Linked DNA regions of Homo sapiens. The protein of the gene in region 4 purifies or fractionates together with the protein of the main gene of each other region. This does not show direct contact. Each region holds a gene or a part of one and is shown on either strand. Other genes may lie near its edges.

Region 1 (4,265 bases), on a different chromosome or scaffold from region 4:
TAACTCTCTTCTACGAAGTTGCCGCACTCCTCTTCCTCCATTATCTGTCACTCCCTTTGCCTTGGTCCCTCTTTGCCTAACTGCCTCTTTTAACTGATCTCTCCTCTTTCCTTCCTCCTCTACCTCAGCCCAGCTCTTAACCCATCAAAAAATAAAACTTGGTATATAACTGCAATGGTATAACACTCTTCTGCATCTCAACCAATTAGGAACTGTATCCAAGAAATCTGTTACTGAAAAAAAAGTACCAAAGTTGTATGTTACATAAGCATGACAGATGTATTACATAAATAAATAAGTAAAAGCAGAAACAGCGTCAACCTGATTGTGACCTTTCATGAGAATGAGTATGGAAAGCTGTCCATCAAAGAAAGCCAGGACAGTATTCCTCAAAACTACCAAAGTTATGGAAAACCAGACAAGACAGAAACTATCACAAACCAAATATTAAAGAAACATGATGTCAAAATACAATGTAGTACACTGGACTGGATTCTGGAACAGAAAGAAGATATTAACGGAAAAACTGGTGAAATCCAAATAATGTCTGGAATTTAGCTACCTAAAAAAATACAAAATTTTTTAAAAACTATATGAAGCACTAATGTGTGATTCAGATTCAAAATTATTATTATATTAGTTAAAAGAGGGATAGGGCATGCAAGTGAGCCAGGAGCAAAACTCCAGTCAGAGTAGCTGGAGCGTCCCACTGAAAGTTACAAACAGATCTATCTTCATTTTGACTCTGGTCCCATGCTCTCTCACCTGATGTCATGAGAATTACCTTGCCTGTAACTGCTTGGGATTAACAATCAGTTTTGTTGTTGTTGGGTTTTCAGTTTTTTGAGACAGGGTCTCGCGCTGTCACTCTGGAATAGCTAGGACTACAGACGCATGCCACCACACCCAGCTAACAACCACGCTTAAGTATCCTAGCACACTCATTCGTTTATCCAACAAGCATTTATACCAAGTGCTTATTGCTTACCAGGCACTGTAAAGTCTTCAGTGATACATGGCTGGAAAAGGAAGCCACAATCTCTGCTCTCATAAAGCTTAAACTCTATTGAGAAAGCCAGGCATTTAACAAGTATTTGCATAAATGGTGAGTGCTCCCAAGAGTTTTGCAGTCTGCTGCTTAAGAGGCACCAAACAAACCAGCAGAGCAGTCATTAAACGCAGTTATCACCAGCACGCTGAACAAAGGCTTCTCAGGTTTCAAAGTGCACACAAATAACTTGAAATCCTGGTAAAGCAGATACTGATTCAGTTGATGTGCAGCGGGGCTTCACATTCTGCATTACTTGAGTCTGAGGTGACAGGGATGCTGCTGGTACACCATCCACACTTGGAATAGCAGGACTCGGAGTACCATGGAAACATCCTCAAAGGATCATGTAAAATGTCAATTCCAATAGGGCAAGGACATTGTGTCTCCCTTATTCACCATGTACCCAGAACTTAAAACTGTGCCTCATAGACAGATCGCATTCAGTAAATATTTACTGACACAACAAATGTATGTATAATTTAGACCAGGGCTGTTCAACTGTAGCAAAGAACCACATTTAGCTATGGAACACTTGAAATGTGGCTACTGTGACCGAGGAGCTGAATTTTTAAAATTTAATTTTAATAGTCACATGTGGTTAGTGGCTCCCACGCTGGACAGTCCAGGTCTGGACACAGATGTGATGTAAAGAGGACTGGACTAACAAGGTCTAGGTTTGAATCCCAACTCTGCTGCTCAGATTGTGACCTGAAAAGTTGCAACTTCTTAGGGCCTTCACTATTTCATCTGTGAAATGACAAGACCTCCTAACTCTCAGCGTTCTTGACACGATTATAAAGCAATGTATTAAACATAAGATATGATCAAAGTGACATTCTCTGCCCTCCAGAAACAGTTCAGAAAGACTACTTTGCCTATTGCCCACTTGACCAAAAAAATGCCAAGTGAGTTTGGTAGACGGGTTGGTTAGCTCAGTGGCTTTGAGAATGAGGACAAGGTCACAAATCTGGGGAGTAAGGGAACCTCATCTAGCAAGGCTGACCAGATAAGAGAAGCAATGACAATGCAAATCATCCCAATTCCTGGTAAATGCTTAAATGGGCAACGTATTGATTATGGATGAGTAAATGACATCTCATTCATTCATTCTTCCAGGAAAAGCGGAAAAGCTACTACATTACCTAAAGCCCGCTACTTCCCAACCACAAACATTTGCTAATTTAGGTCCGGGTCCTCCTCGGGGGCAGCGGGCCGGGAAGCCCCCTCCCCCGCTGCCGGCGTGTCTTCCCCTCCCCCGTGGCGCCGCGAGGGTCAGGCTGGCACCGCGGTTGCAAGTACCACACGGCCGAACCCAGAAGCCATATTTAGCTTTATTTTTGTCAATAAAACAAACTTCCGTCTTCTAAAGAAAAACGGTTCTAACTCAATGTCAAACTAGGACGGAAACTCGCTGCTCGCCAAAGCTGCCAACCAGAGACGCCGCGTGTCCAACGGCACCGGGGTCCCAGACCCGAACCCGCGCCGAGCGTGCCCGCGCCCCGGCCCCAGGCAGCGCCGGCCACAAAGGGACCGGGGACGCGGCCGCGGCGGGGCCTCTTTCTCCACCTCCGACCCGCGCGCAGCGCTGCGGCTCCGGGACTGCCCAGCCGCGGGCGATACACTCACCTCGCTAGGCGCGCGGCGGCGGCGGCGGCAGGCGTCCTCCGGGCCGGCCGCGGCGGTCGCGGCCGGTCCCGCGGCCAGCGCGCTACTCTCGGGCCGCCGTCCGCCGCGCGCTCCTCGGCCACTGCCGGCGGCTCCCCCGGCGGGCGGGCGGGTCCGGCCGGGCCCCGCTCCGCCGCGCCCGCCCCCGCCTCCGCGCCCGGCTCGGGTCGGCGGCTACTCCGGGCGCCCCGCTCGCGGGCTCGGGCGGCGCTACTCCGGGCCGCCCCGCATGCGCGCCGCCTGCCCGCTCACTTGGGGCTCGTCGCGCGGCGGGCGCCGCAGGGCGCCCGCAGGCGCTCGGGCGCGGTCCTCCCTGCGCTGCGTGCTCGGCGGCAGCGGCGGCGGCGGCCCGTGCGGCTGCGCGGGGGAGGCGGGGGCGCCGGCGCTCACCCGGATGCGCGCCCCCTCCGCTGCGGCGAGCCCACCGCGGGGCCGCGACGCTCCCCTCGGGCTCGGGACTCCGGGGTCGGGCGCGGCGCCCCTCCCGGACCGACCGCCCAGTCCCGGCCCCCGCTCACACGGCTACGGGCAGGGCCGGGCCAGGCCGAGAGGTGCCCCCGACCCTGGGTCGGGACAAAGAGGCTGCCGCAGCAAGTTAAAGACAACTCGGGCTGTTGCGCGTCGAGCAGGTCACGGGGTGGGAGGAGATGGAGGAGCCCTCACAGCGGATCGGCTCCCGGGCCGAGCGCGGGGCCGCCCCAACCCGGTCGGCTGCCTGAGGCGGCCGCGAGCGCGGGAGCTGGAGCGCTGTCAGCCGCGCTGAGCCTGCGCCTGGCGACCGCGATGCAGGAGGCCCGGGACTGAGGGAGGACGGCGAGAGCGGAGGCCCGCGACCCGCACCGCCGGGGCAGGCACCCGGGTCTCGGGGGCAGCAACGCCGGGGCCCTTGCAGAACGGGGACTGTTTGGGGAAGTGGCTCCCGCACAGTGCCCGGAGAGGGGCCCTCCCTCTGTGCCCCCTTGGGAAACACTGCTTGGTACAATTCCAATACCCAGCTGTACCCTGCCCTGAAGATAGAAGACAAAACCCTGGCTCTGTCACTCACGCGAGGCATAACCAACCATTCTTTTAATAAATTAATTTTCTACTTAAATAATTCAGAGGTTTGTGTCTTATTGCTTGCCAACCAAGAGCTGCAATAAGAGATTACTTAATATTTAAGTGGTCCCACTTTTAAATTTATATTACCTCTCACATAACCAAAAGGCTGTCCGAAAAAAAAAAAAAAAAACCTGAAGATTATCTCTGGAATTTTAGTATCCTGTTTTTGCTTGTCTACATCTTCCAAGTATTCTAAAATAAAAGTTAAAAGTTACTATTTTAAAAGTACTTATATAATATTTTGAAACAAAGTCAATCATGACTAGCCTGTTACTGTTCCACAAGGAAACTTCACTTTGGAATAAAGTTGTCATCGTTAAAAAATACTCTTATCTTGGGAGAAAAGATTGGCAAATCATATATCTGTTAAAGGACTTGTAGCCAGAATGTATGAAGAACTCTTACAACTCAGTAATAAGACTAATAGTCCAATTTTAAATGGGCAAAA
Region 2 (3,500 bases), on a different chromosome or scaffold from region 4:
TTAAATTTAATGAACTGCAAGATGTATACACTGATAAATATAATTGAAAGAGATTAAAAGATCTAAATAAACAGACATTCATGTTCATACTCTGCAAAGCAACCTACAAATTGAAGATAATCCATACCAAAACCCCAGCTGGCTTTTTTGCAGAAACTGACAAGCTCATTATAGAATTCATATTAAAATGGCTGGGCAAGGCAGCATATGCCTGTAGTCCCAGCTACCTGGGAGGCTGATGGGAGAATCCCTTGAGCCTACAAGTTCAAGTCTAGCCTGGGCAACATAGCAAGATCCCGTCACTTAAATAAAAACTCATATGGAAATGTAAGAAACCCAGAATAACCAAAACATAAAATAGAACAACAACAATGGGGACTCACATTACCTGCTTTCAAAACTTACTACAAAGCTACAGTAATCAAGATAGTGTGGTTCTGGCATAAGAATCGACATACGAATAAATGAAATAGAATTCATGATCCAGAAATAAACTTTTCTTAAAAATGATTTTTGAAAAGGGTATCAAGACAGTTCAAGTGAAGGAGTCTTTTTAACAAATGGCACAGGGACAACTGAGTATCAAGATGCTAAACTGAGTGTAAAATAGTATAACCACTTCAAAGAACAGTTTGGCAGTTCCCTCAAAATGTTAAACATAGTTACCGCATGACTCGGAAATCCCACTCCTATGTATGTACCCTAGAGAATGAAAACACATGTTTGAACAAAAACTTGCACCTAAATGTTCACAGCATCACGATTCATAATAGCCAAAAAGTAAAAGGCACTCAATATCCATCAAATGATGAATGGATAAACAAAATATGGTATACATCCATCCAAAAGGTTCCATACAATGGAATATTAATTGGCTGTAAAAATAAATGAAGTCTTTCTATATGCTATGACATGGATGAACCTCAAAGCATTATCCATTTGCAAAACCACATATCACATGGTTCTGTTTACATGAAATGTCCAGAAAAGGCCAATCCTTAGAGACAGAAAATAGATTAGAGGGTGCCGGAGCAGAATGAAGGGGGCAAAGTGAAGTGATGCTAAGGGGCATGGGGTTTCTTTTTGCAGTGATAGAAATATTCTGGAATTAGATAGTGGTTTGCACGATTTTGTGAACATACATTAAAAATGACTGAAATGTATACTTTAAAGGGTAAACTTTATGTGAATTACATCCCATTAAAGCTATTAAAAATATTACTTGGAGAAATTAAAGACAACCTAAATAAACAGAGGTATATATCATGTTAATGGGTTGAAATAGTCAATTATCCCTAAATCGATCTACAGATTTGATGTTATTTCAACTTAATATCCCAGCAACTTTTGTGGAAATTGACCAGGTTGTATAATTTTTTTTTTTTTTTTCTAAAGAGGCATATGTTGCCCAGGCTGGAGTGTAGTAGGGCTTCACAGGCATGATCATTGTGCACTGTAACCTTGAACTCCTGGGTTCAAGTGATCCTCCTGCCTCAGCCTCCTGAATAGCTGGACTACAGGCACCCCCCACTGCACCTAGATCAAGTTGTACTAAAATGTATTAAGAAAATGCAAAGGGCCAAGACTTGCTGGGACAAACTTGAAAAAAAAAAAAAAAGGCAGGGCTGGAGGATGTAAATTATCAGGTATTAATACTTACAAAGGAGTAAACCAGAGTGGACATACTCTAAAAACTTCCTGTGTTATAGTTCTAAGCCTAATACCACATACACACTGAAAAAATTAACTGTAATATCGATGCATTTTCAATTTTTGCAAAAACCATAAGGAAAAAAGAGGTTAAATGAAGGCTTTAAAGACAAAGAATCAAGCAATCAGAAGTTATAAAAAAAAAGCTATTCCACTTGGGACAAATGGGCAGATGGGAAGAGGTTGTGAAGAGCTTTTTAAAATGTGAATAAGATGCTTGAAAACAAACTACCATCCTCAGGTTTAGTTTAAACCTGCCCATAAAGTTTGGTCTAAAGTAGCTCAAGGTAACCAAGCATGGAAAACTTGTTAAAGAGAAATGTGATGGACAGCTTTTGAGGGGAGTAACTGAGTTTCCTCACCCAAGGGATCACCCAATTGTGGAATGCAGTAAGATTACTTTGCCTCTAATTTTGTTGAAAAGCAGAATAGTATTTTCTTTATAAGACACCTTAAAACTAATAAATAAGATCCAACAACAAATTTTTTAAAAGTTTTCTACTTCCATGAGTTTTTCATTGCTTACTGAATACAAACCTGTTCCTTTTTTAGAAGATCTGCCTTTAGTTACTGTTGGTTTCTTCTTCACAGCTGGTGCCTGAAAAGCAGAATGTTCCCTCCACCTTCGAAGCTGAAAATTAATGAACTTCCACATCATAAATGCCTGAGTAACGCAAATGGATGCCAGAACAGCGATTCTAAGAAATATTAAGACATAAAAAGTTAGTGTATAAAAAACAATGCCACTGAATACATTCTATCATCTTTCATAGTATTTAGTAATAATTCCCACTCAGTTGAGAAAATTGTATTAATAATCATTGCATTAATAATTTATCCTAAAAGTTAAATGCTTTAGTACTTCACTTTAGACATGTAAAATAGCAACGGGTATGAAATAAAATCAAATGAGTATTTTCCCCAACCTCATATTCATCCTTTTTTAGATGATTCAATGTAGAGAAACTGATAATATATATTATCTAGCTGTATAAAGTGAAAAAAATGTTAAATTGATCGTACCTAACAGCTAACACATTGAAGTTTCCAGTACTGAAATCCAGCTTCTGATTTTCTGCTCTTGCAAGGCCAAAACCAACAGTCAGTACTGAAAGAATTAAAGTCAGAAGTCTTCCCAAAACAAAAAGAACTGCCCACAGAGAAAATCTGCAAGAAAAAGGCCGTAAGTCAAATTCCTGAAATCTCAAAAACAAGATTCTATTAGAAATTAGATTCCTAAGTTGGGCGTGGTGGCAGACGCCTGTAATCCCAGCTACTTGGGAGGCTGAGGCAGGAGAATTGCTTGAAACCAGAAGGTGGAGGTCACAGTGAGCAGAGATTGCGCCACTGCACTCCAGCCTGGGCAACAAGAGCGAAACTCCATCTCAAAAAAATAAATAAATAAATAAAGAAGAAACTAGATTCCTATTAAGTAAAAGCCTATTAAAATAGCATTTCTTATTCTGCAAAAAAGAATTTTGAGTCAAATATCTGGGAAAGGCTATATATCACACTCAGAGAGATATAACACATATTAGCCTATTTAAATTTCTAAAACAATCCAGGAAATAAATGTTTAATTTTCTGTTTAGCTTATCTCTTTTCTTGTATAAGAACTATTAATATTCCTCAGAACTACTAGTATTCAGAATAATTTTGGAAAATGCTGGACAAAACAAACCAAAAAAGCTGTGTTATAAAGAACAGGATGCCCAATTCTCATTTAAGAGTCCCAGTTTTTGGCACAAGACAGGGATGGCCTCTCTCACCACTCCTATTCAACACAGTGT
Region 3 (3,500 bases), on a different chromosome or scaffold from region 4:
TAAATTTACCTTTTCTGAAGTTAGATTTTTTAAAAATATGCATAAAGAAGCATGCAAATACTACTGAAAGCATTCATAAAGGCTATAGTCAACATATATAAGCTTTTTACTTAAAAGTTCGATATGAATTCAATATAATCTTTGGACAATTTGAACTTTATTAATTTTTTATGTAAATCTATAATGCTTTTGAAGGATGTGCAATATGAAAGGAATACCATAAGTTCAGAAATACTTGTCTTTATTATAACCTTGTAAATTAGGCAAAAGTGAAAATACATCCCACGTTTTTAAATCTGAGATAGGCTGAGAGGAAAAACAGGTTTTAGAAATTACATACTTGGTAAAGAAGAACCAGGACTAAAAAATCAGGACTTCTTCAAGTTTCTCACTACCGTCTACTGAAGGGCTTTGTGGACCAATAAATATTAAAAATTAGATTTAATTAGAATATGATGTAATGAAAAGTCTACTAGGAAAGAATAGAGGTGGGGAGAATTAGTAGAGAATGAGGATAACTTACATAAATATAAAGTCTGGATGGTAAAAACTTTCAATTTTTAAACAATGTGTCCCCTACAATGTTTATATATTTTTTTTAAAAAAGGAAATACCTTGGAACAGGGTTAGCAGTTGCGTACAATCCTGTAATGTTGCTATTCTCAGGAGGGCTTGAATTTGCAGCAGCATGCTTGCACCGGTTGTATATTGTCTAAAGCAACGAATGTATGGTTTAAAAATGAGAATCAAAAGGTTACCAAGTACTTAAAGGACATCAGAGTTTATAAATCTATCTATCTAAACTTACCTTCTTGGCTATGCTTTATTCTTTTTTTTTTTTTTTTCTTTTTGTGTGAGACAGAGTCTCACTCTGTCGCCCAGGCTGGAGTGCAGTGGCGCGATCTCGGCTTACTGCAAGCTCCGCCTCCCGGATTCACGCCATTCTCCTGCCTCAGCCTCCCGAGTAGCTGGGACTACAGGCGTCCGCCACCACGTCCGGCTATTTTTTTTGTATTTTTAGTAGAGACGGTGTTTCACCGTGTTAGCCAGGATAGTCTCGATCTCCTGACCTTGTGATCCGCCAGTCTGGGCCTCCCAAAGTGCTAAAATTACAGGCGTGAGCCACCACGCCCGGCCCTTGGCTATGCTTTTTAATGATCAAATGGCCATATAATCTTTTAATTCAAAACTGACATAACTTAGCTGTCTTAAGAAATAACATTATTTCCAACATGCTGTATGATTAAAATTTGTCTTTTAAATTGTGAAAATAAATTTCACTCCTTACCGTACTAACATCCAGAGGCAGTATGAAGACAATAAGAAAGCAGAGATACCAAGCAAGCAGTGTTCCAATAATCACAAGTCTATGCTGTTTCTTAAAGTCTCCATATCGATGAAGCAGAAATAATGCCAGAAAAAAGACAAAAACAATCTCAAGTCCCAAAGCTGCACCACTCATTATTGAATATTTCACTCTGACTAACCAAAGTTATTCATGTACAGGTCTGGACCATATCTATAAAGTAAAAAGAAGGTTAAAATGCATCATTAACACAGGAAATGACATTTGGAAATTTCATCTGAATATTTATTAGTACATTAATACATTAATCAACTCTTTGGAGAAATGTCATGCTTCACATTGGACTATGAATAAGATTAAAAGGGTAATTCCTATCCTCAAGTACTTATATTTTATTTTTAAAGCACACTTAAAAAATTTCACGTACCTTGTATTTTCAAAAACTTAACAAAAATTATTAGTTCTTACAATATTACAAATTAAGAAGTTCTTATTTTAGATGTGAACAGTTTTAATACAGTGTCATCTGGAGTTTGTTTCTTAATATTATAAGTCCTAACAGAATAGTTTATGCAAATAAGCTGTTAACTAAATCCTAGGAAATTAGATACTTAGTAAAATACATTTTACTAAGATTATTCATCCTCTATAATTTAAGATTTTCTAAAAGAGAGGAAGGAAAAAACGGAAAGAGACCATTTAAAAGTAACCTTTTGTTTTTTGAAATAGTATTTTTCTTTTGTGTTAATTTCACCTAACAACTCAACTTTCATGAAATTCTTACTCACTGCTTTACAAAATATATTTATCACTTCCATTTATCTACATAAATCTTTAAACTTACTTTGATAAATTCTCATTTTTAATTTTTCTACTATTTTATATGCAGAAAATTTATCAATGACTATTAAAGTCATACATTTGAAAACATTCTTAATTTTATGATACAGTCATCAGCGAATAGTTTACTTGATATCTCTCTACTCAAAAAAGTTAGAGTATAGAGATTTAAAGTCTCTATTTTAAAATTGAAAAATTTGATATCTCTCTATACTTAAAAAAATTTACTAATCAAAGGCAATATGAACTTTTTCTCCTTTGTAAAATCAATGTTAGACTTTTGTTTATCTACATACTACAGTATTTCAAGGAATTGATTAATATCCTAACACAGAGAATCAAGAGTGTGATCAACCCAACAAAATAAAATAAGGGGCAGTGGCTCACACCTGTAATCCTAGCACTTCGGGAGGCTAAGGCAGGCGGATCACCTGAGGTCAGGAGTTCATGACCAGCCTGGGCCAACATGGTGAAACACCATCTCTACTAAAAATACAAAAATTAGCCAGGTGTGGTAGCGGGTGCCTGTAATCACAGCTACTCAGTAGGCTGAGGCAGGAGAATCGCTTGAACCTGGAAGGCAGAGGTTGCAGTAAGCCGATATCGTGCCATTACACTGAAGCCTGGGCAACAAGAGCAAAATTCTGTCTCAAAATAAATAAATAAATAACAAAATAAGGGAGAACCAATGAAATACTTCAAATCAACAAACATCTTTAACTAAAACTATTTAGAATAATAGAAAAGACAATTTAAGTACTTTAAATGGTTAAATTTAAATTTATATACAAAATACTCCTACATGAACTATCACATAGAAAAATCACATTTAATGAACAATTTTCTTCACTATTTTTTATATTGGTAAACAGTTTCCATTTCAACTGTCAATATTTTCATTTTTCTTAATTATCTAAAATTGAACTTCTTTCATCAATCTCTACCCTCTTATCCTGCTATATTTTCCTTCAATGCATTTATTCATCTGATATAATACACATTCTTTATATTTATTGTCTCTCCACACCTCTCCCCTTACCCCAGAGACTCTATGAGAGCAGAGACTTGACTATTTTATTCCATACTATATTCCAGTTGTCTGATGTAGTTAGTACCTGGCATACAGTAGTATCAAGAAATATTTGTTGAAATAATAAAAAATACTGTGTAGTTTAGTACATACACTATTTTTCTATTACTGACGACTTCAAAGGCAATGTAAAACTCGTGTAATGGTAAACTGATTTAACAAATACTTATTACAACTCAAAAGGCTTAAAACTCTGAACATTACCAAATACTACTCAAATTTTCAAATTTCATATTCTATGAAACAACTTATACCACAACAAAG
Region 4 (3,500 bases):
CCCACCAGCTCCTATCCCCTACTTGTTTCCCATGGTGAACCCTAAGGAACCTCCAGGGAACCCCAAGAGCTCCTCCGGTTTGCAAACCACTAGGGTAGGTGATGGGAAGAATCCCAAAAGGTTTTCAGCCTGAGCATAATGCAGTGAGATTTCTTTCTTTTTTTCTTTTAATTTTTTTGAGTAAACTAGTCATATCACATGAGATTTTTGAAAGAGTAAAGCAGCTCTGGATTTTAGAAACAAATGAAACTATCTCAGCTCTGCCTCTCACCAGCCAAGTGTCCTGGGTAAGTTACTTACCTGCTCTGTCTGTCAAAACAGAATAAAAAACCTATTTTTGTAGGATTGTCATGAGGATTGATGAAATATAAGTAGGGTGCCTGATACACAGCGAATTCTCATTTGATGACAGCCATTAATACTCTTTCGTTTTATTAGGCATCACTCTGACTTCTGTGTAGCGAGATGATTGGGGTCGGGGATAGATGGAGGCATGGATGGAAGCTATTACAACAGTCTAAGTGAGAGATGATAAAGGCTTGAACTGAATTAGTCACAATAGGGATTGAGGCCAGGTGCGGTGGCTCACGTCTGTAATCCCAGCACTTTGGGAGGCCGAGGTGGGCAGATCACCTGAAGTCAGGAGTTTGAGACCAGCCTGGCCAACATGGTGAAACCCCGTCTCTACTAAAAATGCAAAAACTAGCCAGGCTTGGTGGCAGGCACCTGTAATTCCAGCTACTCAGGAGGCTGAGGCAGGAGAATCGCTTGAACCTGGGAGGCGAAAGTTGCAGTGAGCTGAGATTGCGCCACTGCACTCCAGCCTGGGCGACAGAGCAAGACTCCGTTTTGGGAAAAAAAAAAAAAAAAAAAGACAATAGGGATTGAAGGGGGAGGTGGACTCTAGGACTATTCTGGAAGCGCTGTCAAGACAGGGAATAAGCACTGACTTCCTTCAAGTCAACCAGAAGAAAGAAGCAAACAAAAGAAGGAATAACCCAAAGGTTGTCTAGAACTGGTCTAGGGGAAGAAGGAGACTACAGCCTGGGGCAGAAAGAGGAACCAGAGGCCCAGTGGAGGGCATGCTGGAGAAAAGCTTTTCAATTCCAGTCTTACCTCTCCCTACAGTACATGTCTGCCCCTTTAACAACTCCCTCCAGTGTTGAGAAATTAATAAAACAGGTTCAGGCTGTCCAGCCAGCAATCATTCCTCACCTACCCTCTCCAAGCTCCTTGGGCTAATGGGCTGTAACCTAGAGAGACTGCCTCCTCCTTCTTTCAGAGCAGCTGATAGGAATAGCTTAATGGACAGTCACTGAACAACAGAAATCAAGGGTGATTCTGTAGTGCCCAAGATTGCTCCATCCTGGGGTGCATCCCCTCCCCTCTACCTAGAGGGACTCAGACCCAAGCCTGGCTATCATCTCGTTCTTCAGCACATAGGGGACATGTATGAGAGTGGTCATCACAGTGATGTTTGTGGAGGCTGGGAGTTGGAAGCTGTCTGGTTGTCTAACACTGGTGGATGGACCACGGAACCACAGAATACTCTGTAGCAGGTAAAAACAATAGACTAAATCAGTGGTTCTCAATTAGGGATGATTTTTGTCCCCGAGAAGACATTTGGCAATGTCTGGAGACACTTTTGAATATCACAACTGGGAGTGGGGGTGAGGGTGCTATACTGGCATTTATTGGGTGGGGCCAGGTATCTACATCTTACAGAACAGCCCCAACAAATAGTCAACTCAAGGCCGGGCACGGTGGCTCACTTCTATAAGCCCAGCACATTGGGAGGCCGAGGCAGGTGGATCACTTGAGGCCAGGAGTTCGAGACCAGCCTGGCCAACATGGTGAAATCCCATCTCTACTAAAGATACAAAAATTAGCCGAACGTGGTGGCAGGTGCCTGTAATCCCAGCTACTCGGGAGGCTGAGGCAAGAGATTCGTTTGAACCAAGAGGGGGAGGCTGCAGTGACCCAAAATCATGCCACTGCACTCCAGCCTGGAATGAGACTCCGTCTCCAAAAAAAAAAAAAAGAATTAGTCAACTCAAAATGTCAAGAAGGCTGAGGTTGATTGGGCACAGTGTCTCACACCTGTAATCCCAGCACTTTGGGAGGTTGAGATGGGTGGATCACCTGAGGTTGGGAATTCGCGACTAGCCTGGCCAACATGGTGAAACCCTGTCTTTAGCTGGGCGCGGTGGCTCACGCCTGTAATCCCAGCACTTTGGGAGGCTAAGGTGGGCGGATCACAAGGTCAGGAGTTCGAGACCAGCCTGGCCAATATGGTGAAACCCCATCTCTACTATAAATACAAAAATTAGCCGGGAGTGGTGGCACGTGCCTGTAGTCCCAGCTACTCAGGAGGCTGAAGCAGGAGAATCTCTTGAACCCGGGAGGCGGAGGTTGCAGTGAGCTGAGATCGCACCACTGTACTCTAGCCGGGGCAACAGAGTGAGATGCTGTCTCAAAAAAAAAAAAAGAAAGAAAGAAACCCTGTCTTTACTAAAAATACAAAAATTAGCCAGGCATGGTGGCAGGCGCCTATAATCCCAGCTACTTGGGAGGCTGAGGCTAGAGAATGGCTTGAACCCCGGAGACGGAGGTTGCAGTGACTGGAGATTGCGCCATTCCACTCCAGCCTGGGTGACAAGAGAGAAACTCCGTCTCAAAAAAAATAAAAATAAAAATAAATTAAAAAAAAAAAAGGCTGAGGTTGAGAAACACACTAGATGAAAAAAACAACATGACTGGGTCACAAACATATAATGCAGAGTGGAAATTTTTTCTAAAAAAAAGGGATGTAATCCTTTATACAATGCCTATTGGAATTAAGGATTCATTCTCAGCCATGCATCCCATATTTTTTGTGAATCTATTGCAAGGTCAGTAATGTAACAATCAGAATATACAATGGCCATAACTAGATATGATTCCTGACTCCTGGAGTCTAGTAGAATGGGCAGATAGTAAATAATTTCATAGTAAAAAGGGGGAAGGGAGAAGAATTTATGGAGACTCGTAGAATCCAGAGTTCCCCAATTCCCCAGGGAACTGCACAAGCCACAAAAGATCCCTAACTTTACATCTTTGTTTAAATAACACTATAAACAATACCCTTCAGCAGGGATACATACCAGCTTGGGATTTATGCTGCATACACAGTGAGAGCTCAATAGATGTCTGTTGATTGGATAAAGTCTGCACAGTTAAGCACAACTAAATGACTCCTTCAAAAATGTCTAGGACTTTACCCTGTGGAAGGCGGAAACCAAAATGAAAGGAGAAAGCACAGGTGTATCCCAGACCTGTTGCTAGACAATAACAAGGAGTGTGGGTGTTGGCCAGGCGTGGTGGCTCAGGCCTGTAATCCCAGCACTTTGGGAGGCCAAGGGAGGTGGATCACTTGAGGCCAGGAGTTCAAGACCAGCTCAGCCAACATGGTGAAACCTCATCTCTGCTAAAAACACAATATTGGCTGGGCACAGTGGCTC
Region 5 (3,500 bases), about 44 Mb from region 4:
GGATCGCTTGAGCCCAGGAGTTCAATACCAGCCTAGGCAACATAGTGAGACCTCGTCTCTATCAAAATAAAAATAATTAGGTCGGACGCAGTAGCTCACACCTGTAATCCCAGCATTTTAGGAGGCCAAGGAGGGTGGATCTCCTGAGGTCAGGAGTTCAAGACCAGCCTGACCAACATGGTGAAACCCTGCCTCTACTAAAAATACAAAAATTAGCTGGGCATGGTGGCACATGCCTATAATCCCAGCTACTTGGGAGGCTGAAGCAGGAGAATCGCTTGAATCCAGGAGGCGGATGGTGCAGTGAGCAGAGATCGTGCCACTGCACTCCACCCTGGGTGACAGAGTGAGACTCCATCTCAAAAAAAAAAAAAAAAAAAAAAAAGAATTAGCAATATTAAATCTCAAGAATAAGGAAATCCACAGAGTCAGAAAGCAGATTAATAGTTGTCAGAGAATTGAGGGGAGGGAAGAACGGTGAATTACTGCTAACAGATATGGGGTTTCTCTTTGGGGTAATAAAAATGTTCTGGAATTAGATAGTGGAGATAGCTGTACAACCTTGTGCATACACTAAAACCCACCTTAAAATGGTGAATTTTATGGAGACAGAGGATGAAAAGCCAGTGAGAGTGAGTATGTGGTGTCACAGAAGACAAATTAAAAAAGCATTTCAAGGAGAGAATAATCAATTATGTCAAAAGCTGTTGTGAAAGCATGTTAAGAGGAGGATGAAGTGACCACTGAATTTAACAATGTGGAAAATATCTGGTGAACTTGACTAGAAAGTTTCTGTAGAGCAGTGAAATAAAAAGGCACCTGGCTTAAGAACCGTGGAGCCAGAAATTAAGACTTTTAAATTAAACTGATCACTGAATTCAAAAGGGTAACTGAGCCACTTTTACTACATGTTGCTTCAAATCTTAAAGCGTGGGCATTAAACTCTCTGTGCCTGAGTCCCCATCTGTAAGAAGGGGGTTATATCGCTACCTGTCTACCTCACAGATAAACATAATACAAGTCTTTCCTCTATAGAATATGGCCTCTAGAGGAATGATCTATATTTTATTTACCTTTCTGTCTTCCACAGCACCTGGCAAAGAGCCTTCATGTATGCTCAGTTGTTGAATTAAGGTAACATATGGGCACAACTTAAATCATAAAGCAGTACACAAATGTAAGATATCGTGAAAATCAAGTACTTCTATCTCATACGTAAAATAAAGACAATGCCCTCCACTGAAATATGTTCAAATAACAGGACACAATTTTCATAACAAAAGGTTTTCCAGAATGTCCTTCCATATATCTTGAAGGGCGAGCTACCAATGAGGAACAGGTCAAAAAGCTCACCGTTCCCTCTGGTTAAGTTATGATGATATGGTTACAGGAGATAATAAATCAGTTGATTGGAGAAAACAGGTAAGAATAGTTCTTTGAGACTGGGTGTGGTGGCTCACATCTGTAATCCCAGCACTGTGGGAGGCCGAGGCGGGGGCAGTTCACTTGAGGTCAGGAGTTCGGGACCAGCCTGACCAACATGGTGAAACCCCATCTCTACTAAAAATACAAAAATTAGCTGGGCATGGTGGCACAAGCCTGCAATCCCACCTACTCAGGGGGCTGAGGCAGGAGAATCGCTTGAACCCGGGGGGCGGAGGTTGCAGTGAGCAGAGATCCCACCACTGCACTCCAGCCTGAGCAACAGAGGGGGATTCTGTCTCAAAAAAATAGTTCTTTGAAATAAAAAAAAAAAAATCAAAAATCACAAGAGTGGGCCACTTGCTGATAAGCTCACTGTCTTCTCTGGTTAGGTTACAATGATATGGTTATAGGAGATAATAAATCAGTTGATTGGAGAAAACAGGTAAGAATAGTTATTTGAAATAAAAAAAAAAAATCACAAGAGCAGGCCACTTGCTGATAATCTTCTCCCATACGTAAAATGGAAATGCAAACCCCGTTACAGTATTTAAAGAGATTCTCTCTGAGGTTGCAATATCACAGAGTAACATGTCTTACAAAACTCACAGATGCCCAGAAGACTTCAATGATGCAATCACAAGCAATACTGATTACAGCTAAACTTATTTAACACACACACTTCTTTCAAAACATCAACACCATACCCTATGATCCAAAATAACTCTACAACTAGTAGCTGTCATAAATGAACAGAATAGAAGGTTAAGTCAGTTTTCTGGGCAACTTCTGAATAAGTCAATTATAAGAACAAAATATCGACCTGCTAATTTTTGTCTAAAAAGTTTTACTATGAGTGCTTACTTCAGCAGCACATATACCAAAATTAGAACAATACAAAGAGTATTAGCTAAATTAAGAGAAAAAGTTATACTACAAAATTGATGAATTTTTCACAAGTTTGTATACTTTAGGAGGCTAAATTCATCATCAACAATAAAGTTAACACAAACTATAAGCTAAGTGCACACAACAAATATGCACATTTATATTAGAAAACCTACTTACTTAATGAAGCCTTTGTAATTCTGTTCAGAATTACAAAAATGGTAAATTCTAGGATTATGGGTAAAGAGAAGTGTCTTTCTGCAAAATATACTCTTGACTCAAACAAAATTGGAAAGCTCAACTTTCCCTTTTCCCTTCAACCAGACGTCACCAATTCCTTCATGACCAAACTTCATTTTACAAGGCTTGAAACATGCACAGGACTAGACAGGTAACTCCTATATCAGGATAAATATATTATTTCCTCACAGGATAATTTGATAAAAGCAGTAATATTGGTTTTTATTTTCAGCCCATCTTTAAAACACCAAGAATAAAAACACTGAGGTTCTTACCAGCCACTTAATGAACAACCCCTTAGAAATGACAATTTAGGGTAAGGGTGCACCTACTAAATGTATGTAGATTGGTTGTTTAATTTGATCAGAGTGGTTCCATTACTTGTGAATTTGACAATAAACAAAAACAGCATTAAAAAAAAACTTCTTGGCCGGGCGTGGTGGCTCACGCCTGTAATCCCAGCACTTTGGGAAGCCAAGGCTGGCGGATCATGAGGTCAGGAGATCAAGACCATCCTGGCTAACATGGTGAAACCCTGTCTCTACTAAAAACACAAAAAATTAGCCAGGCGTGGTGGTGGGCACCTGTAGTCCCAGCTACTGGGAAGCTGAGGCAGGAGAATGGCATGAACCTGGGAGATGGAGGTTGCAGTGAGCTGAGATCGCACCACTGCACTCCCGCCTGGGCGACAGAGCGAGACTCCGTCTCAAAAAAAAAAAAAAAAAAGCAAAACACACTTCTTATTCTTGGAGAATAAAAACAATCCAAGTCAGCAGGCATTTGCAGGCCATATTGACATGACCATTCTTGCTGTCTCCTGTATGCTTGCCTCTGTGCTGAAAGGGGTTTCCTAATGTATCATAACAACATTTATTAGTCAGAATCTGCATAAGTATTTAAGCATATTGATTCATGCCAAGCCTTCTGGGAAACATCTTGACTCCTCCCTC
Region 6 (3,500 bases), on a different chromosome or scaffold from region 4:
ACCCAGGCTGGAGTACAGTGGCACAATGTCCACTCACTGCAATCTCTGCCTCCTGGGTTCAAGCAATTCTCCTGCCTCAGCCTCCCTAGTAGCTGTGATTACAGGTGCTTGCCACCATGCCTGGCTAATTTGTGTATTTTTAGTAGAGACGAGGTTTCACCATGTTGGCCAGGCTGGTCTTGAACTCCTGACCTCAGGTGATCTGCCTGCCTCGGCCTCCCAAAGTGCTGGGATTACAGGTGTGAGCCACCATGCCCTGCTGGCTATGCACTGTTCTAAGTATTTTACACTTATTAACTCATCTATTAATAACCTACGAGGTGAGTAATATGCCCATTTTGTAGATGAGGAAAGTGAATCTAGAGAGGTGAGGTCACCTGCAGATAACACACATCTGGTAGGGGTAGAGGTGGGATTTGAACTTAGGCATTCTGAGTTGATAGTCTTCTGCACTGTGAGCCGCCATATGCTCTATTCCCCTTTATCCTAAAAATAAGACAGTAAAGCACTAGGTATTGAGTGGTTCTCTATATTGATTTTTAAGTGCTTAAATGCTTAAATGCTCGAATGAGTGTGGCTCCATGATGAGTTGTTTCTGAGATCTTTGGGTTAGCATTAAGGAGCAATAGTGTTGACTTCATGGGCACGTGCCCTGAATAGTCACAAAAGACTGTGTGAGAGCTTGTTTTCATGCTATCCTGTAACATCTTGAAGTTTTAAATTTTTTAACAAGGGGCTCTGTATTTTTCTGTACTGGGTCGCACAAATTATATAGCTTGTCCTAAGAAGGGACAATACCTTATGCCCATTCCCCAAAGCCCCTGATATCTCTTACTGTACCTACTGAATTAGGATTCAGGTGGCCATCTGACCCATATGGTATTTTTTTTTCTTTTTCTTTCTTTCTTTCTTTTTTTTCTTTTTTTTTTTTTGAGACTATGTTTCACTCTTGTTGCCCAGGCTGGAGTGCAATGGCGTGATCTCGGCTCACTGCAACTTCCGCCTCCCGGGTTCAAACGATTCTCCTGTCTCAGCCTCCTGAGTAGCTGGGATTACAGGCATGTGCTACCGTGCCTGACTAATTTTGTATTTTTTTAGTTGAGACAGGGTTTCTCCATGTTGGTCAGCTGGTCTTGAACTCCTGATATCAGGTGATCCGCCTGCCTCGGCCTCCCAAAGTGCTGGGATTATAGGTGTGAGCCACTGCGCCTGACCCTATGGTATATATGTATATATTTTATGTGCTTATTTGTCCAAAGTTATTTTAATATTCTCTGAAGAGTGTTGAAAAGGAAATGTGCTATTGACTGTATGTACATATCTAGAATATGTAAAAATGTGTTCCTTTTAATTTTTAAAAGTTGAATCATATGCATTACAGACATGTTGTTTGAAATGAAAATTAACACTTTTGTGGAAGACAGGCTTTTAATAACTGATTGAAGGGACATAGGCTTCTTTATAGTCAGTGAAAGGTATGTTTATGCTTATTTGGTTTTCTAAAACTCAAAGCACTTGGAAGCATCTAGAGTTAGATTACTATGTCTCCTAAGATTCCGAAGGACTCCATTAAAAACAATTTCAGATTGAGAATCATAGAATTTTAGAACTAGAAAGACTCAATAATTTAATCCAAAACTCTTCATTTTCCTAATGGCCTGTACAGGTTCAGAGACTTGCTCAAGGCCACAGAAAGAATCAGAGCTTCCTGATCGCCAGTCTTGTCTTTTCTACCTGTCTTTTACATGTAATTCCATAGTTATAATATGTAAAGATGTTAGCAGCAAAAACCCAGTACTTAGGGGCACAGGAATCTTAGAGCATTTTATAGTTTGCACTGTAGCCTTGAATTTTTATGGGTTCTGTTTCCTTAACAAGATCACAAAGTCAGATTTTTTTTTTTTTGGTCTGTTATATACGCAAGCACTGTGCTTGGCACAAATAGTACTTGATGAGTGCTTGTTGAATGACTTGAATAATTAGGGAGCTACTAGTGACAAGGATATGCAGTGTGGAAGCACAATGAACAAACTGAGGCCGTTATTCCTTTAAGATGCATAGTCTTCTGTTTTGATTTGGGGGTCCTACCTAGGCTAAAATTCCCTATTTCTCTGTGGCCCAGTGTACTTCTGGTAATCTTGAGACTTCTAATGTTGGACAGACTGGATGCCTACTAGAATCGTTTACTCAGCCTCTGCCTCATAAATAATTTGTATTATATCACGGAGTGATTTCAGAAATGTTTTGTTTGATTTACTTTGGCAAATGGAAACCTTTTGTCTTTGTCTCTGTTGGGAGTATAGGAACTCTTAAAACTTACTGAAAACTTATAAAGAGTATAAGCTGTTTACTATAAGTGAATTTGTGAGTTATCTAATGTAGATTGTTAAATGCCGTAATTCGTTGTCCTATTTTCAGCTCTACTCAATGATAGACTGAAAGTTTATTTAGGTACAAAGCTATTTTTGAGAGAGAGTAGTTATCTCAAGAGACTATTCAAAATTACATTTCTAATTTATTTGTATTAGAATTCTGATGTGTGTTTTAATAATTTAAAGGTTTTGAAATTATGATTTCTGGAACATTATTTTGAAGTAAACACATATATTTTTCCCCCTTTGTATGAAAATGAAGGATAGCATTTGGGTGCTTGTTCTGAACCCTCAGTCCTTTGCTCATCTATGTAAATTGTGATTTCTTATTCAGATTTCACATGACCACGTCAGCATATTATCTTCTAAAGCGTTTCTCCTGATAATAATTAATTCATTACCTCTGTCAAGGAGGAAAACTTTGGTACCCCCCCAACACATAAACAGTATTTAAATAAGAGGGGCCCAACATTGGTGACTTCTTGAGAATAAAGGTCATTCCTTTTGAGATTAGAGTGCAAATAGCTTCTTAGAAGGTTTTTTTTCTTTCAGGCAGATTAAAGGCTCACATAGAAAAGTTATTCAGTGTTCAGGACTGTCTTTAGTTGCTTTGTACACCTGGCACTGTTTTCATATTTCCTTGATTTAGTTTTTTGCTCTTTAATGAATGAAGCTGACTAGGGATTAGCAAAAATACTAACCTTTTAAACTTGATGCTGATTGATTTGGACAAATTACTTAACATCTCTGTTCTTTAGTTTTGTTTTTGTTTTTAGTCTGTAAAATGGGGAAGTAATAGGACCTATTTTATAGAATTTTGAGATGATTATTTAAGTGTTCATATAAAGACCTTAGAACTATACCTAGCTCATAGTATGTATTTATTGTTAGCTACTGATGTTATTATTACAAAAATGGTGAGATCATGTCATGTTAGGGTTTGGTGAGTTAAGGCTTTACTTGAGGATTTGAAAAAGGAGGATTTGAGCATTTCGGAAGGATTATTAGAGTTTGGCTAAGTGGAGAAAAGGAGGGCATTCTAAATTTGGTGGAATGACGAAAGAAGATGAAGTGGGGCCAGGCGCAGTGGCTCACGCCTGTAATCCCAGCACTTTGGGAGGCCGAGGC
Region 7 (3,500 bases), on a different chromosome or scaffold from region 4:
AGAATCAAAAGTAAGCTTCCAAGCTCACGGCCAGGATTACAACTTCATATTACAGAAATGTTTAATAACAAATATTTGACTAACAGATTATAATTCTGAAGTTGTACATTTTTAAAAGCCTTTTAATTTTGCTTCTTTACTAAAAAAACTATGAACTGATGAACTCACAATAGAAAATTAATAATAATTTCAGGGAAAAAAAAAAAAGGCACATCCAGGCACCACATTCAAGGTGATCGGTAAAACGCAGTGTCCCGGGTCTACTGCACATAATCAACAGACTGCAAATAAACTACTCCGGAAAATTCTAAAATAGGACAAGAATATTCTGTAAAAGCCGGGATAACACGACTGCACTGACGCTCTGCTAGAGGGCTGTTCTGTTGCCAAGGTGCGAGCTTCCCAGAAGGAGCAGCTGCTGGCCATCTAAGCGCTCACTCCCCACAGACGCTTCCCTTCCACGGTCCATCATCTCCGAGCCATCAGAGGCTGGACCGTCTCTCCGGTCTGGGCACACACCTCGTGATTGCAGCTCTCCACAGCACCGGGGCGAGCAAGAGGCTGAGCGTGGTCACACTCAGTATAAGGAGGTACACCTGCAACAGCAAAGTGCAGAGCGGGTCACAGAGACTGTCAGGACTAGCACCTGCAACAGGAAAGCACAGGGCTGGTCTCACTGAGCTGGGAGGGACGCCTGCAAAGCTAGAGTCCTGAGGCTGAGCACAGTCACGCTGAGTGCTGGGAGGGATGCCTGCACGGGGGGGTGGGGGATGGAAGCTAAGCGCGGTCATGCCGAGTGCTGGGAGGGACGCCTGCACATCATAAATTCACTACTATCTCTTTAAAGCACATGGAAGTACAGCCAGAAGCTGAGGACATTGGGATGTAGGAGAGACTGTGATTTCAAGATCAGTGATGCATGGTTAGTCCTGATGGGCCACAGGATAACAGCTTTAGCCTGTGTTTGCCTGAAGGCCAACCCCGGGCCACAGTAACAAGCCAGCCTGCCCCACAGCTTCCCTGACCCTGGGGATGCGGCCTTGGGTCAGGCCTCAGGTGGAGCTTCCTGTAAGCAATTCTACCTTTCAGCAATTACTTCCACTGCACTCAACACCTGGACTTCTACCCGCCTCACACTTACACAATGCAAGGAGACAAGGCCGTGAGTCCGAATGCCCAGGGCCATCTCAGTGTCCACAGGAACCTCCACCCAGCTCTCCGGGCACACTGCCATTACGGGTATTTCACGTTTCTGGGGTGCTACTTATGTGCACACTGGCAGTTCAGCTTTAAAAAGTTAGTTTTCTTTCAGAAGAAATATCTGACATTTAATTAGACTTGTTGTAAAAGGTTAATGCAATAGTTCAAGCAGTACTAACTGCAACTTTCCTCTGAAAACGCCACATGCTGGATGAGCAGAGAGCAGCCAGGCCTCTGCGTGCCCCCCTGGAGGAGGACCCTGCCCCCAGGCCCCGCTGTGCTGCCGAGCCGCCTTCGCCACACCCGACTCAAACCCAGAGTGCAGCCCGTGCCGCCCGAGAAGCGCTCCGCGGGGGGAAGCCACTCACCTCCCGAGAGATGACGCCCGCTCTTCGCGCCCGGCTCCCCAGGACAAAGGAAAACTCGCTGACCTGGGCAAGCCCCGCAGAGACGATCCACTTGATGTACTGGCTGCTCCTCGGCAGAATGAGAGACAGGACCAGCGCCGCCAGGAGAAACTGCAAGAGCGGTTCATTACGTCACTGCTGAAGACTGGACCCACACAGAGTTAAACACACACGAAACAGAGAACCCAGACGAGCCACAGGCACGCTGCGATGGTCCCTGAATAACACGTCAAGTAGGGAAAGGCACAGAAGCACTCCAAACACCCGAAGGCACCAAATACACGCAAAACCTCTTAAATAATCCACACTGAACAATAAGGCAAAATTAAGCCTTTCGGTTCATTAGCAGAAAATAATAAGCCTTGCCCAAGCCCCCCCGCCCCCGCCCCAACCAAACTAGATTAATAGCATTAAGCGTGGGGTACTCAAGGTGGAAATTTCTTTTTAATACAGAGAGATGTGTGTCTCTGGGCCGAGCAGCTAAGAGCTGGTGGTGTGTCTTTGGGCCGAGTAGCTAAGAGCTGGTGGAGTGGTCCAACGATCATCACAGCTTCTGGCTCCTTAAAACGGAAATGACCTAAGTCACTGTCTATGAGCCAGAAAGCCACTGGTTGCTGACTAGGTCATCACACCTTCAATTAAATGTGGACACAGGCAGCTCGATCACTGGCAGTCACGGGGGACAGACAGAAAGTGCCTACACCATTTTCCAGTCTTTAAAAAGCATGTCTGCATCTGTCAGAGGAGGACGGGCTGGACTGCAGCCAAGGCCCGTCCTGAGGGTCCCAAAAGGTTAGTTCCCCCCTTTAAACACGCTCAATTCTGAAACAATCGATCACATGGACAAACCCAGACCGCCCAGCCTCGTCTACATCTGCCTCCCCCGGGGTCCAGTGGCCCAGTGGGCCTCCTCCGAGATGAGGAGCAGGGCCGGCTCTGCAGGCCCGATGTGGGCCCCACTGGAAACCAGGGCCACAGGGAGGGCTATGCTGAGCCTGCAAACTGCGAGGGGCGTGGACCCTTCCAGTCCATACCTTCATCACCACCACTGACAAGGTGAGGAACACCAGCACCGTGAGCTCGTACGCCACAAACGTGGGGAACACGTGGAGCCCTGTTGGGAACAGGACAGACACGTTACGACCGCAGGACAGCCTCCCCCAGCGCACACTATTTCTCACAACTTCAGTGTGTCACTTGCTTCAATACAGGAATTAAAATCCTAAATCCTCCCAAGTGCACGTGTGAAAGCAACAGCAAATGCTAAAAAGCCGCCCCTTTCCTGAGCGAACCGGGGAAAAGCCTGCCCTGGGATGACCTGTCTGATGTGGTGGGATCCCAGCTCCACTCCCTGCAACAGGCCTCAACTGCAGAGGACACAGCAAAACACACAGAGGCGGCACTCGGTCTGGCACTCCTTCAGGAAATATTCCAGCTGAGGTGCAGATGATCCCAGAGCCCACAGCCCCACAGTGCCCAGGAGTGCCCAGGAGTGCCACGCTCACAGGACGCCTGTGGTCAATGTTCCTTTCCTTCCTTTATTTGGCTCACACATTTTTAAAAACAATGGGAAACGTTGTCTCCACATATTTCTTCTCTCTGCTCTCAGGACTCTCGGACTGGGCTGCTCAGTCCTGCTGTGCTGCCGAGTGACGCAGAGGGGCCGGCGGTGCTGGGGCTGGACCTGAGCTTGGGCTCAGCTCTCCAGCCACAGCCTGGAGCTGCCCAGTGATGCATGTCAGCCCTCGGAGGAAGCCCGGCAGCCCAGAGGCCTCCTCTTGATCGGAAGGACCCAGACCCCAGGGTTAGGTGCACGGAGCAGGCCCATGACCTTTCTGCCGTTCACAAACCACTGTCTCTACCTGACCCAGAAACACAAATGTAAACACTGGC

Evidence for each region.
Region 1: the proteins of SLC35F2 (region 4) and GALNT1 purify together in Homo sapiens (affinity purification with mass spectrometry; one large-scale study listed by BioGRID and IntAct). This does not show direct contact.
Region 2: the proteins of SLC35F2 (region 4) and TRAM1 purify together in Homo sapiens (affinity purification with mass spectrometry; one large-scale study listed by BioGRID and IntAct). This does not show direct contact.
Region 3: the proteins of SLC35F2 (region 4) and LMBRD2 purify together in Homo sapiens (affinity purification with mass spectrometry; one large-scale study listed by BioGRID and IntAct). This does not show direct contact.
Region 5: the proteins of SLC35F2 (region 4) and RTN3 purify together in Homo sapiens (affinity purification with mass spectrometry; one large-scale study listed by BioGRID and IntAct). This does not show direct contact.
Region 6: the proteins of SLC35F2 (region 4) and TM9SF3 purify together in Homo sapiens (affinity purification with mass spectrometry; 2 studies listed by BioGRID and IntAct, with this or other methods). This does not show direct contact.
Region 7: the proteins of SLC35F2 (region 4) and SLC9D1 purify together in Homo sapiens (affinity purification with mass spectrometry; one large-scale study listed by BioGRID and IntAct). This does not show direct contact.

What each region holds. Positions count from the first base shown.
Region 1 is NC_000018.10:35,580,275-35,584,539, reverse strand, and holds the start of GALNT1 (polypeptide N-acetylgalactosaminyltransferase 1), read right to left. Parts: upstream 2,801-4,265; 5' UTR 2,678-2,800; exon of another isoform or gene 2,672-2,677; intron 1-2,671. UniProt on the Homo sapiens protein: Catalyzes the initial reaction in O-linked oligosaccharide biosynthesis, the transfer of an N-acetyl-D-galactosamine residue to a serine or threonine residue on the protein receptor.
Region 2 is NC_000008.11:70,580,917-70,584,416, forward strand, and holds part of TRAM1 (translocating chain-associated membrane protein 1), read right to left. Parts: intron 2,878-3,500; coding exon 2,734-2,877; intron 2,409-2,733; coding exon 2,248-2,408; intron 1-2,247. UniProt on the Homo sapiens protein: Involved in the translocation of nascent protein chains into or through the endoplasmic reticulum (ER) membrane by facilitating the proper chain positioning at the SEC61 channel.
Region 3 is NC_000005.10:36,141,888-36,145,387, forward strand, and holds part of LMBRD2 (G-protein coupled receptor-associated protein LMBRD2), read right to left. Parts: intron 1,520-3,500; 5' UTR 1,463-1,519; coding exon 1,289-1,462; intron 713-1,288; coding exon 615-712; intron 1-614. UniProt on the Homo sapiens protein: Recruited to ligand-activated beta-2 adrenergic receptor/ADRB2, it negatively regulates the adrenergic receptor signaling pathway. May also regulate other G-protein coupled receptors including type-1 angiotensin II receptor/AGTR1.
Region 4 is NC_000011.10:107,848,788-107,852,287, forward strand, and holds part of SLC35F2 (solute carrier family 35 member F2), read right to left. Parts: intron 1-3,500.
Region 5 is NC_000011.10:63,688,000-63,691,499, reverse strand, and holds part of RTN3 (reticulon-3), read right to left. Parts: intron 1-3,500. UniProt on the Homo sapiens protein: May be involved in membrane trafficking in the early secretory pathway. Inhibits BACE1 activity and amyloid precursor protein processing. May induce caspase-8 cascade and apoptosis.
Region 6 is NC_000010.11:96,580,513-96,584,012, reverse strand, and holds part of TM9SF3 (transmembrane 9 superfamily member 3 precursor), read left to right. Parts: intron 1-3,500.
Region 7 is NC_000013.11:113,546,521-113,550,020, reverse strand, and holds part of SLC9D1 (transmembrane and coiled-coil domain-containing protein 3 isoform 1 precursor), read right to left. Parts: intron 2,722-3,500; coding exon 2,642-2,721; intron 1,719-2,641; coding exon 1,569-1,718; intron 597-1,568; coding exon 483-596; coding exon of another isoform or gene 469-482; 3' UTR 1-468. UniProt on the Homo sapiens protein: Probable Na(+)/H(+) antiporter.